2 separate regions of the Homo sapiens genome follow, and region 1 is linked to region 2. A link means that fine-mapping ties the variant in region 2 to the expression of a gene that starts in the linked region. Tissue or cell type: monocytes. Region 2 holds a variant in brackets; the other region holds the start of a gene. All regions are shown on one strand. Distances are from middle to middle.

What was found. PIP is the estimated chance that this variant, and not a neighbour inherited with it, causes the effect.
Region 1: it holds the start of ATG101, and the variant in region 2 is fine-mapped to the expression of ATG101 in monocytes (TOPMed, PIP above 0.99).

Annotation. Positions count from the first base shown.
Region 1 is chr12:52,067,321-52,072,749 of GRCh38, reverse strand. ATG101 (autophagy related 101) reads right to left here and starts at 2,772. Exons shown (of 4, transcript NM_021934.5): 1 at 2,508-2,772; 2 at 2,267-2,396. RefSeq lists enhancers at 2,424-3,139, 3,017-3,306.
Region 2 is chr12:52,152,675-52,158,103 of GRCh38, reverse strand. No RefSeq gene overlaps it. Among named protein-coding and RNA genes, the nearest start is that of KRT80, 37 kb to the left of the region's middle. The variant C/T (reference allele first, on the strand shown) is at 2,015.

The sequences.
Region 1 (5,429 bases), 85 kb after region 2:
AAAAAAGACAAGTACCTTTGGCTAAAGGGCAAAGAATGGCTCTAAACCGTATTGGGGTCACAAACTGCTCTGAGAAGTGAATGAAGCCATGAAGACTGGGCTTTAAAAACATGACTCTCACACACACACATATACCAAATCTCACCTATTTCTAGAGACACCCACATCCACAGACTCCAGGGTAAAAACTTGTGGATTTAAGGCACAAAGGCTGGGCACGGAAGTCAGTTAAAGACCACTACAGTAGATGTAGTTACAGAAGCAGCATAATCAGGTGTGGGCGGTTTTTCATGTCCTACAGTCCTGGGTTTGAATCCCACCTCATCTACATCTTGCTCTATGACCTTAAGCGAATCACTCAACCTCTCTGAACTTCTTATCTGTAAATGGGGATAGTAGTGAGAATTAAGGTAACACATGTAAAATACAGTAGAATAGTGGTTGAAAACGATGACTTGAAAGCCAGACAACCTGGAATGGAACCCCAGCTCTGCCACTTGCTCCATGCTCATGATCTTGGGCAAGCTGCTTAACACCTATCTGCCACATATACAAAAGAGATAATAATGGCTACCTTGAAAGGGTTGAGGGCTGAATGAGCTAGCATGTATAAAACACTTAAATAAGTACCTGACAAATGGTAAATATCCACTAAGTATTAGCTGCTATAATTCATTATTACATTGTTACTGCCAAGAGATGATGCAAGGCTATAACACAGCAGTGGTAGAGAGAGTAGGAAGGAGAGAACAAGAGACTTGAGAACTAGAACATAATAACTAAATACATGCCCAGAGGGAGAGGGAGCTTCAAGTTCCTTATAACTCAGAGTATTCAGCTTGCAAACCTCCCCTGACTGGGAATTCACTAGCTCTCACAACAACCAGTCAATGTTCAGGAAGTTCTATTCAGTTATTCTGATTTATTTATTTATTTTATTTATGAAATGGGGTCTCACTCCATCACCCAGGCTGCAATACAGTGACACAATCTCTACTCACTGCAACTTCTGCCTCCCAGGCTCCCATCCCAGCCTCCCAAGCAGCTGGGAACACAGGCGAACACCACCACACCTGGCTAATTTTTTGTATTTTTGGTAAAGAAAGGGTTTTGCCATGTTACCCAGGCTGGTCTCGAACTCCTGAGCTCAAGAGATCCACCCGCCTCGGCCTCCCAAAGTGCTGGGATTACCGCACCCAGTCCAGTTATTCTTTCTGCTGAAGAATCTGTCTCTTAGTGCTTCAAACCACTTTTAGTTTTAGTTTTGGTACCCAAAGCCACACAAAATAAGTCTCACCTCTTTTCCACAAGTGAGTTTTTATTTAGGGGCAGCTATTCCACCACCCCCTCACCCCTTCTACAGGCTGAAGGTCCCCAGTCCTCAAAAACATGTCTGTTCCACATCACATCTTATCTGCATGGAATCCTAGCAGCTCTCCTCTAAGTATATTTCACTCATCTGGTTGACAGATGGTGAATATAAAAAGTATATTTCAGTTTGTGTCTGCCCCTTTTAAACTGTTGCTCAGCACAGGATACAGGGCAACGGTCTGTGGACCGCACAGAGATCAGGCCAGCTCTGCCTCTCAGCTGGCGATCAGCTCGCGTCTACCTGTACTATCAAGCACCATCACGTTTTGTTTTTGTCTCTACCACTAGGCAAACAATTCCTATATTCTGCTTATAGGGCAGAGACTATATTCCATTCATCACTATAATGGTAATTCCTAGTACCTTCTACAAAACAACTGCTCAATTGAGCCCAACCCAGGAATTCCAGGTTCTTCCAGGGGTTGCTGGATTAGTTTCTCCTACATGCTTGGATCAAGAAGGAGAAGGGCTCTCTTGCTCGTTTTGCCCTCCAGTTTTACTCCATCCAGCAGTTTTCTTCCCATCTAGAGACTCCCGGCTCTGGTCCGGCTCCCTTTCTTCCACGACTTCTCCCTCTTGTGTCCCCCGCAATCGTTCACACAAGCCACACATCTCACTTGTGCCCCAAGCCTGGGCTCCTCCCTCATTCTACGTGCTATTTTAGGATCCACTCCTCCAAGAAGTCAGTCCTGACCAACCCCATTCTCCTTCCCACAGCTGCCACATTTGGTCTGTGAAAACCTTGTTGTCCCCTGCCCCACACAGTGAGCAGTGAGCAAGCAGGGCCCACCAGAGTAGGGTCTGGAAAGTCTCGTCCCTCTTGTCCCCCCGAGTGGCAGAGGCTAACAGCCGCCTTCTCAAGCCTGGCTGGAGCACAGGGTGCGCCCATTCCCACCTTGAGTGTAGAGTTTGGAGCACGGATTCCTCAAGCTCGGCTCATGCCCTTCCTCCTCCTCCTCACGCCCTGGTGCGACCTCCGCAGGTACGCTTCAACCTCCGCACGGCGCTGAGCCACAAGAGACCAGCTAAAAGCAAAACCAGAAAACTTACTTGGCTCCATATCAAGAGACTCGGGACGGACGCAGGAAGGAATTCCCGCCCGGGTCCCGTATCCCCCGCCGCCACTACGCGCGAACCTCCACAGTCCACGTAACCAGGGAGGAACGGACTCCTCGGGTGTCTCGGGGGCGGCGCCCCGCGCCCAGGCTGGCTGGACTCGGAAGCTGGAGGAGCGCCCGCGTTCCACTGCCCCGGGGGATGCCCACGCCGGCACAGGAGAGGGGGCACACGGTTAAAACAGCTCCCACCTCCCCCAACCACAGTCCACGACCAGCCTCTCAGATGCCACCACTCTCCCGGCAGGCTCCAGACCACCTGGGTCGGAGGCTGAGCCGGGACCGGAAGCCGCACCGCCCCCCGCGCGCCGGGAAGCTCACCAGATCCCACGGCCCCGGAGGGGGCACCTGCCCAGCTCGCCGGGCCCCCGCACGCATGTAGCCGCCCACAACATCCGCGTAGTCACAGAAGCACACGCAGATAGTCATGCGTTGCTCTCTGATCTGGGGGCTGCTCCTTTCGTGGTTATGTCTCGGATTTTAAGAGTTGATGGTGATGAAGATCCCCCTCATGTGGACGAGTCCATTCAGCCCACCACCGAGAACGCTGTGGTGTTTCGGCCCGTACAACTCACTTCCGCCATAGAGACTGGAGGGAAGGAGGAGCCCTACGGGCTCTCGGCCGCCTCCCTAGGCCGAGCGGAGTCATCGGCGGCGAGCCTGGCCGGGAGACGCTGACGCGGTGCCCAACTCAGTCCGGACTGAGAGGTCTGGAAGGAACACTGATCACCGCAAGATGAGGGGCGTACCCCGTAGAGAGAGGTCCTGGAGATGAGCCCACACCGCTGTACTGCAGGACGCCCAGTGGATGGCAAAACTTGAGTTTGTTGAATGTGCGTAACAGACGGGATCCCTGGCCCTCCACCCACACAGATGCTGGAGAAAGGGGCTTCATCTCTCAGTGTTGCCTTTATGCAGCAGCACTACTTGATACCCCATGGTGACCAATCTGGTGACAGTCCTTCGGAGGCTAGTAATTCGGCCATTGCTTCTCTGCGTGACCCTCAACATCACTCATCCTTTCTGATGCTCTCTATAAACAGGTGGCTGTTGTGAGGATCACAGGAGATAACTCATATGAAAGATTTCTGTGACCTGTAAAGTCTAATATGAATACAAGTGTATTTTTAGTGCTGTGTAACTTCCTGGAGCGCATTTGGTTCTCCATGTAGATTGTAAGCCCAGAGCAGACAGGGCTTCGAGAGCTCGGTTAATGCACCCACCTCCAATAGGAGGCAGTATTTTTTTTTTTTTTTTTTTTTTTTTTTTTTTTGAGACGGCGTCTCGCTCTGTCGCCCAGGCTGGAGTGCAGTGGCGCTATCTCGGCTCACTGCAAGCTCCGCCTCCTGGGTTCACGTCATTCTCCTGCCTCAGCCTCCCGAGTAGCTGGGACTACAGGCGCCCACCACCACGCCCGGCTAATTTTTTTTGTATTTTTTTTAGTAGAGACGGGTTTTCACCGTGTTAGCCAGGATGGTCTCGATATCCTGACCTCGTGATCTGCCCGCCTCGGCCTCCCAAAGTGCTGGGATTACAGGCGTGAGCCACCGCGACCGGCCAGGAGGCATTCTTAAGGTGTTAGCTGGGGATTACCATGCTCATTTTCTGGCCCATTGGGGTGCCTCACGCCTGTGATCCCAACATTTTGGAAGGCTTAGGACAGAGCATCACCTGGGGCCGGGGGTTCAAGACCAGCCTGGTCGACATAGTGAGACTCCCATCTTTAAAATAAAAATTAAAAATTTAGCTGGGCGTGTTGGTGTACCCCTGTAGTCCCAGCTACTTCAGAGGCTGAGGTGGAGGATCACCTGAGCCCAGGAGGTTGAAGCTGCAGTGAGCTATAATCACGCCACTGCATTGCAGGCTGAATGACAAAACAAGATCCTGTCTCAAAAAGAAAAAAAAAAAAAAGTCGGGTGTGATGGCTCATGCCTGTAATCCCGGTACTTTGGGAGGTCGAGGCTGATGGATCACTCGAGGTCAGGAGTTTGAGACCAGCCTGGCCAATATGGTGAAACCTCATCTCTACCAAAAATACAAAAAAAAAAAAAAAGCCAGGTGTGGTGTCAGGCACCTGTAATCCCAGCTACTTGGGAGGCTGAGGCAGAAGAATTGCTTGAACCTGGGAGGTGGAGGTTGCAATGAGCTGAGACTGCACCACGGCACTCCAGCCTGGGCAACGGAGAGAAACCCTGTCTCAAAAAAAAAAAAAAAGCTGATTTTTCTAACACATGCTTTTATTTCCCAAAACGATAATAGATAACATTTATTAGGTGGAATGGAAAGGTCATGATTTTAAATACCATATATGTGTACATATAAATTTAAACCTGATACTAATCAATCCTGCAATATAGATAAGAAATTGGGCCGGGCATGGTGGCTCACGCCTGTAATCCCAGCACTTTGGGAGGCCGAGGCAGGTGGATCATTTGAGGTCATGAGTTCGAGACCAGCCTAACCAACATGGTGAAACCCTGTCTCTACTAAAAATACAAAAAAAAAAAAAATAGCCAAGCTTGGTGGCACACACCTGTAATGCCAGCTACTCCGGAGGCTGAGTCAGGAGAATCGCTTGAACCGGGGAGGCAGAGGTTGCAGTGAGCAGAGATCACACCACTGCACTCCAGCCTGGTGAAAGAGCGAGACTCCGTCTCAAAAAAAAAAAAAGAAAAAGAAAGTGACTGGGGAGAGGTTAAGTAAGTGGCCCAAGGTCATTCAGTAAATAACAGAGCCTTGAGTTCAAATCGAAAGCTCTTTGCCACTATGGGAGCTCTCTTTCTGGCTGGCTTCTTCAGCCAACTCTCTCCTATGTACCACCACTCTCCAATACACCCCCACCCACCAGTGGTGTCCTGATAAATGCTTCACACCTGCTCTCTGGTAAGGGAAATGCCTTGATTTGTAGCATTTGCCCATTTCCTATCATAGGTGATTTCAAAC
Region 2 (5,429 bases):
CTGCACTCCACCCTGGGTGACAGAGTGAGACTCCATCTCAAAAAAAAAAAAAACAAGAGATGAAGAAACAAGCCACGCAGAAGCCTGGGGAAGACCATTCCAGGAAGAGAGAATAGCAAGGCCAGAGGCCCAGAGGCAGAACAGCAAGGGCAAAGGCCCGGAGGCAGAACCTGCCTATCATGTTTGAGGACTTGCGAGGAGGGATGAGGGGAGAGGCGGGGGGTTCAGCCTACACTAGGCCTCAGGGGCCACTGTTGAACCTCAGCTTTGACTGAATGAGATGGAGGGTTTGGATCTGACCTCTGCAGTAAGAGGCAGGGGACCACAGCAGTACCATAATATCTGGACTTTTCTCAGCCTGCATTTGATAAGCAATAAAAGAGGAAAGGGCCTTCCCTGCCAGTCTCTGCCTTTTGTCCCATAATTTCCACTTCAAATAATCAAATGGGGGGAATAGTGATCATTTTGTATCCCAAGTATCCTAAGATACTCCCCCCGTTAGAATGTTAGCTCCCTAGCAGTGGCAGGAGCCACTGAGTGTGACTTGATCATTACCATATCCCCAGCGCCTTGCAGTGGACCTGGCACTTAGTAGATGCTTGGAGAAATGTGCAGACATACCAATGACGGAGGCTCTGGCAACCTCTCATAACCTCCAGGGTGACGTTGCGTGTCCAGGCCTGAGCTGGACACCTGGAAGACATTGCCCCATTCAGGAGAGCTCAGGTCACCCAGAGGCAACGCTGAAGTCAGACCTTGAGCGTGCCTGACTCTAGAGCCCTTGCCTTCCTTCCCCTCCTCACTGTCACCAAGAGCCAACACCCCCTGCCTCCAGAGGGACATGCAGGCCAGTGTGGTCACTCTCACCTCCCTCCGGCTCATTGGGCCCGGAATGTTCTCAGAGGGTGAGGGATTGTCCCTGTGTCTGTCCTTCTGAGGGTCTGTGAGTCTGTTGGAGAGGGCCTGTCCCTCTGGGGAGGATGTGTATATCTGGCCCTCTGGGAGTCTGCCCCTCATGTTGCAAAGTTCATGTTCCTCCACCCTTTCCCCGCAGGTGGGTCTGTGCCCGTGGTTCAGCCCTACCCTCCCCACTCCCATTCCCACCTGCTTGTTCCATGGCTCCCCACCATCTGCAGGCTCTGAGCGCCCCCTGCTGACCACTGCCTCATCTGCACCTCCACGCCCAATGGGGAACCAGATACCTATGGCCTGGGGTCTGGGACAGTGCAAAGAGCTGTTCCTGGGGCGAGGTGAGAGGATCGCTTGAGCTCAGGGGTTCGAGACAAGCCTGGGCAATATAGTGAGACCCCATCTCTATCTAAAAATAAAAATAAAAAATAAGAAAGAGGTAAGTACAGGGGGCAGGATTAGCCTCCTTGAGGCCTCTACCCCTGACTGGGGGCTGAAAAACACCTAGGCCCGCCTCCACACCTGGCCTTAATCTCTTTCATCCCATCCGCCACCTTCCTATTCAACACTCATCCCTGCCAATCCTACCTCTCCCCAAGCGCCCCTCCTTCGAAGTCCCTGTACCACCAGCAAGGCCATCACACATCCTGCTGTGACACTGACTCAGTGGGACTGACATGCAAATAGATTCCACACATGTGGTGAGTCAGGAGCCTGAGAAGGGGACACAGGCTGAGTGAACTGGAGTGAGGTCAGCCTTTGGAGATGACCACATATACCTGGGGACATGGCTATCTGCAGATATGAACACACATATGCACAGCCTATGCACACACCTACTCACAAATGCAGGCACACTGTGCACAAGCATATGTTCTTATGCATATGTTCACATGTGCACACATACAACACATACATGTGTACCCAACATACGTGCATTGTGCAAACATAAGTGCAAATGGACATCTGTGTGCACACCTCCATCCCTGGGCGGAGACATCCACGCCTACATGCAGGTGTCCTCAACAGGCGCAGGCAGACTGAGGCCCACCATCAAAGCACACATCCGCACATGTGCATACACATAGCCCTTGATCAGTGCTCA[C/T]ATGCACACACGTCCACAGGTGCCAGGAGTATAACTGGACTGAAGTCAGACAGACCTCAATTTGAACCCTGACCTGGCTTTATCACTCAGTTGCTCTGTGACCCTGAGCATCTGCAACTTTCAGAGCCTCAGTTTCCCCACCTGTAAAACTGGGTAATAAGGATGCCTGCCTATAGGGTTGGGAAGATTAAAGGAGACAATACATGGAGCAGACCTGCAACACAGACCTGCAACACAGCTAATGCCAGCAAGCATTAGCTGGCAGAACCCCAGCCTCAGACCTGTATATAACTGTGACTATAAAGTAATGAGAAGGGTCCCCTCTGGGGCGTGAGTCCCCCAGCACAGGCACACACATACACATGCACACACACACACACACACACACACACACACAGAGGCTGCTCTGTGTTTCTGCTGTTTACAAAGCTGCCTAGCTACGACCTGAGATCAGGAGCATGTGGGCTCACTTGGGAGCCCCACCCTTCCTCCCCAGCCTGTCAGAACAGGGCCTAGCGGGGAATCCTGCATTCCTCCTCCTCTTGGCTACAGCCTTTAGGGGTACAAAATGGAGGCCTTGGAGTCCTACTTCCCCCAGGCCCCCCCATAGGCTTTGCCCTTTTGCAGTGGATTGTGGCTGCTTTAAGGAGCTCCCTGAGATTGGGGGAGACTAGGGTCCCCCTGGAGGCTCTCCAGCCTGCCTGACAGTCCTCTCCTCAGCTCCATCCCCCTACAAGCCCGTGGCTGCTAAGACCATGTTTCTGGTGGAGGGAGGCCCACGGTGTCCCACCACATACTCTCCCCATGACCTCCTGGAAAAAGGAAGATGGCCAGTGTCCTCCTCTCCCGAGGATGCTAAGTCCCCTTGCAAAACCCTGCCCTGACAGGCCACTGCTGCCCCAACCCCCATGGCCACCCCAGTGCCTAAGCACTGAGGGAGAGGAGTTCCCTGTCGTGTACTCAGAGTGGAGAATAACTTGAGCTGATAAGCTAACTCTGAAGACCTTCCAGGGGATCAGGGATAGCCACATGGCCCCACGTAGTTTCAAGGTCAACCCTCGAAAGTGTAGCTTTCTGGCTGGGTGCAGTGGCTCATGCCTGTAATCCTAGCACCTTGGGAGGCCGAGGCAGGTGGATCACCTGAGGTCAGGAGTTCGAGACCAGCCTGGCCAACATGGTGAAACTCCATCTCTACTAAAAATACAAAAAATTAGCCAGGTGTGTTGGCCCACACCTGTAATCCCAGTTACTTGGGAGGCTGAAGCAGGAGAATCATTTGAACCCAGGAAGTGGGGGCTGCAGTGAGCCAAGATCACACCGCTGCACTCCAGCCTGGGTGACAAAGTGAGATTCCATCTCCAATAAAAAAAAAAAAAAAATTGTAGCTTTCAGCTGGGAGCAGCTCATGCCTGTGTGTGATCCCAGCACTTTGGGAGGCCAAGGCAGGTGGATGGCTTTGAGCACAGGAGTTCAAGACCAGCCTGCGCAACATAGTGAAACGCCATCTATACAAAAAATACAAAAATTAGCCGGACATGGTGGCATGTGCCTGTAGTCCCAGCTACTCAGGAGGCTGAGGTAGGAGGATGGCTTGAGCCTGGGAGGCAGAGGTTGCAGTGAGTGGAGATCGTGCCACTGCACTCCATCCTGGGTGACAGAGTGAGACCCTATCAAAAAAGAAAAGAAGGTGTAGTTTTCAGACACCAAACACTCGACCTATCAAGCCTCAAAAGGCTAATATGGGTCCCTTCCCCTTACCTGACCTTACCCCAAGCAGAAGAGAAACACAAACTTGTGCCTGTTCTGGTACTGCCTGGCCTGGCCTCTCCTACCTGATGTCTCTGAGGGGAAGTTGGGGCACGTTGGAGCCTGGAGGAACAGCAGAAATTGCTGCCATACTTAGCAGACAATGATCCCCTTCCTTTAGTCCTCTGAAAACTAAACCAGCCAAAAAGTAGCTGGTACAGCCCAGGTAGGCCCATCCCCTCCCATTTCCCTCCAAAATAGGTCAGGGCCACCTCACACCTCAGGTTTGGGGATATAGTGGGTAGCACAGGCATCCTCCAGGGGGTAACATACTAAAACCATGAATGTCACCTACCCCTCATTTTACAGATGGAGAAACTGAGGTCCAGAGAGAGGAAGGGCCTTGCTCTAAGCCGCACAGCCTGTCAACCAACAGAGCAGGACTTTAAACCAGGAGCTGGACCTCCTGACCCCTCCCCACAGTTTTTGGAGACGGTCAGGACTCAGGTGACCCTCGAACTCTGAGCGTTGCCCTATGTCCTAGCACTGCCCCGCTGGTGGAGAAGAAAGGGAAAGAGGGGATATACCAGTGGAAACAGCTGATGCCCTCTGTCAAGGAGCAGGCTGAGGGGGACCTTCCCCCAGGGCTGAGCCTTAGGGTTAGTGGGATTTACATTGCCCAGACAAGGTCTCTTCTGGAACTTCGAAGCCCAGACCATGGCCAGGAGAGTGTCACTGGTATGGCCACAGCCAGACCTGGGCTTGGGAAGGGGACCCTGAACATATTCTGAGACACACACCCTCTCTTTGCCGTTTCAAACCAACCCAAAAAATGTGGAGATAGGGAAAGGGGAAGAGAGCACTATGCTGGGAGTCAAGGGCCCTGGTTCTCGTCCTGCTTCTGCCGCTAACTTGCTGGAGGAACTTGAGCCTCAGTTTACCCATCTGTCAGACAGAAATGAAGTTTGCACTCCCCTCCCCCCACCACCCTCCTATGCTGCCAGAGCCTGCCCTTCATGGCCTCAGTCTCTCCCTCCAAATGCCAGGAATGTGCCTCCCACTCCCCTCTCTGTCCTGGCCCTGCGGGTCAAGGGCAGGGTCAGCAGAGGCTGAGGGGTGAGCCACTCTCCAGCCCCTTCCAGGCTGCCCATGGCCCCGGCTTCCCCTCAGAGACACCAGGCAGGGGAGGCCAGGCCAGGCAGTACCAGAACAGGCCAAAGTTTGTGTTTCCTTCTCAGTCTCCCACCTTCCACCCACTCACCTAGCCTGGGAGCCATGGGCAGCCATGGGATGAAGCTGGGGCCCCAAGAGGCCCGTTCCTGAGGAGCCTTGCCCTGGGGGGCTGCCAGTCTGATAAGGGAGGTGCCTGACGTCATAAGCCTTACCTACTGATCAACACCACAGTGCTTCGAAGTAGGATCATCACTCTCTTTTTTGTTTTGTTTTATTGGGATTTTGCGTTTTTTCGGAGACGGGGTCTCAGTATGCACAAGCTGGAGTGAAACTCCTGGGCTCAAAGGATCCTCGTGTCTGAGCCCCCCAAGTAACTGGGACTGCAGGTATCACTCTCTCAACAGATGAGGAAACTGAGGCCCAGCCAGGACTCCAGCACAGGCCAGGACAGGCAGGACGCCAATGAAGCTGGGACTAGGGGTCTGGCCCCCCAGTC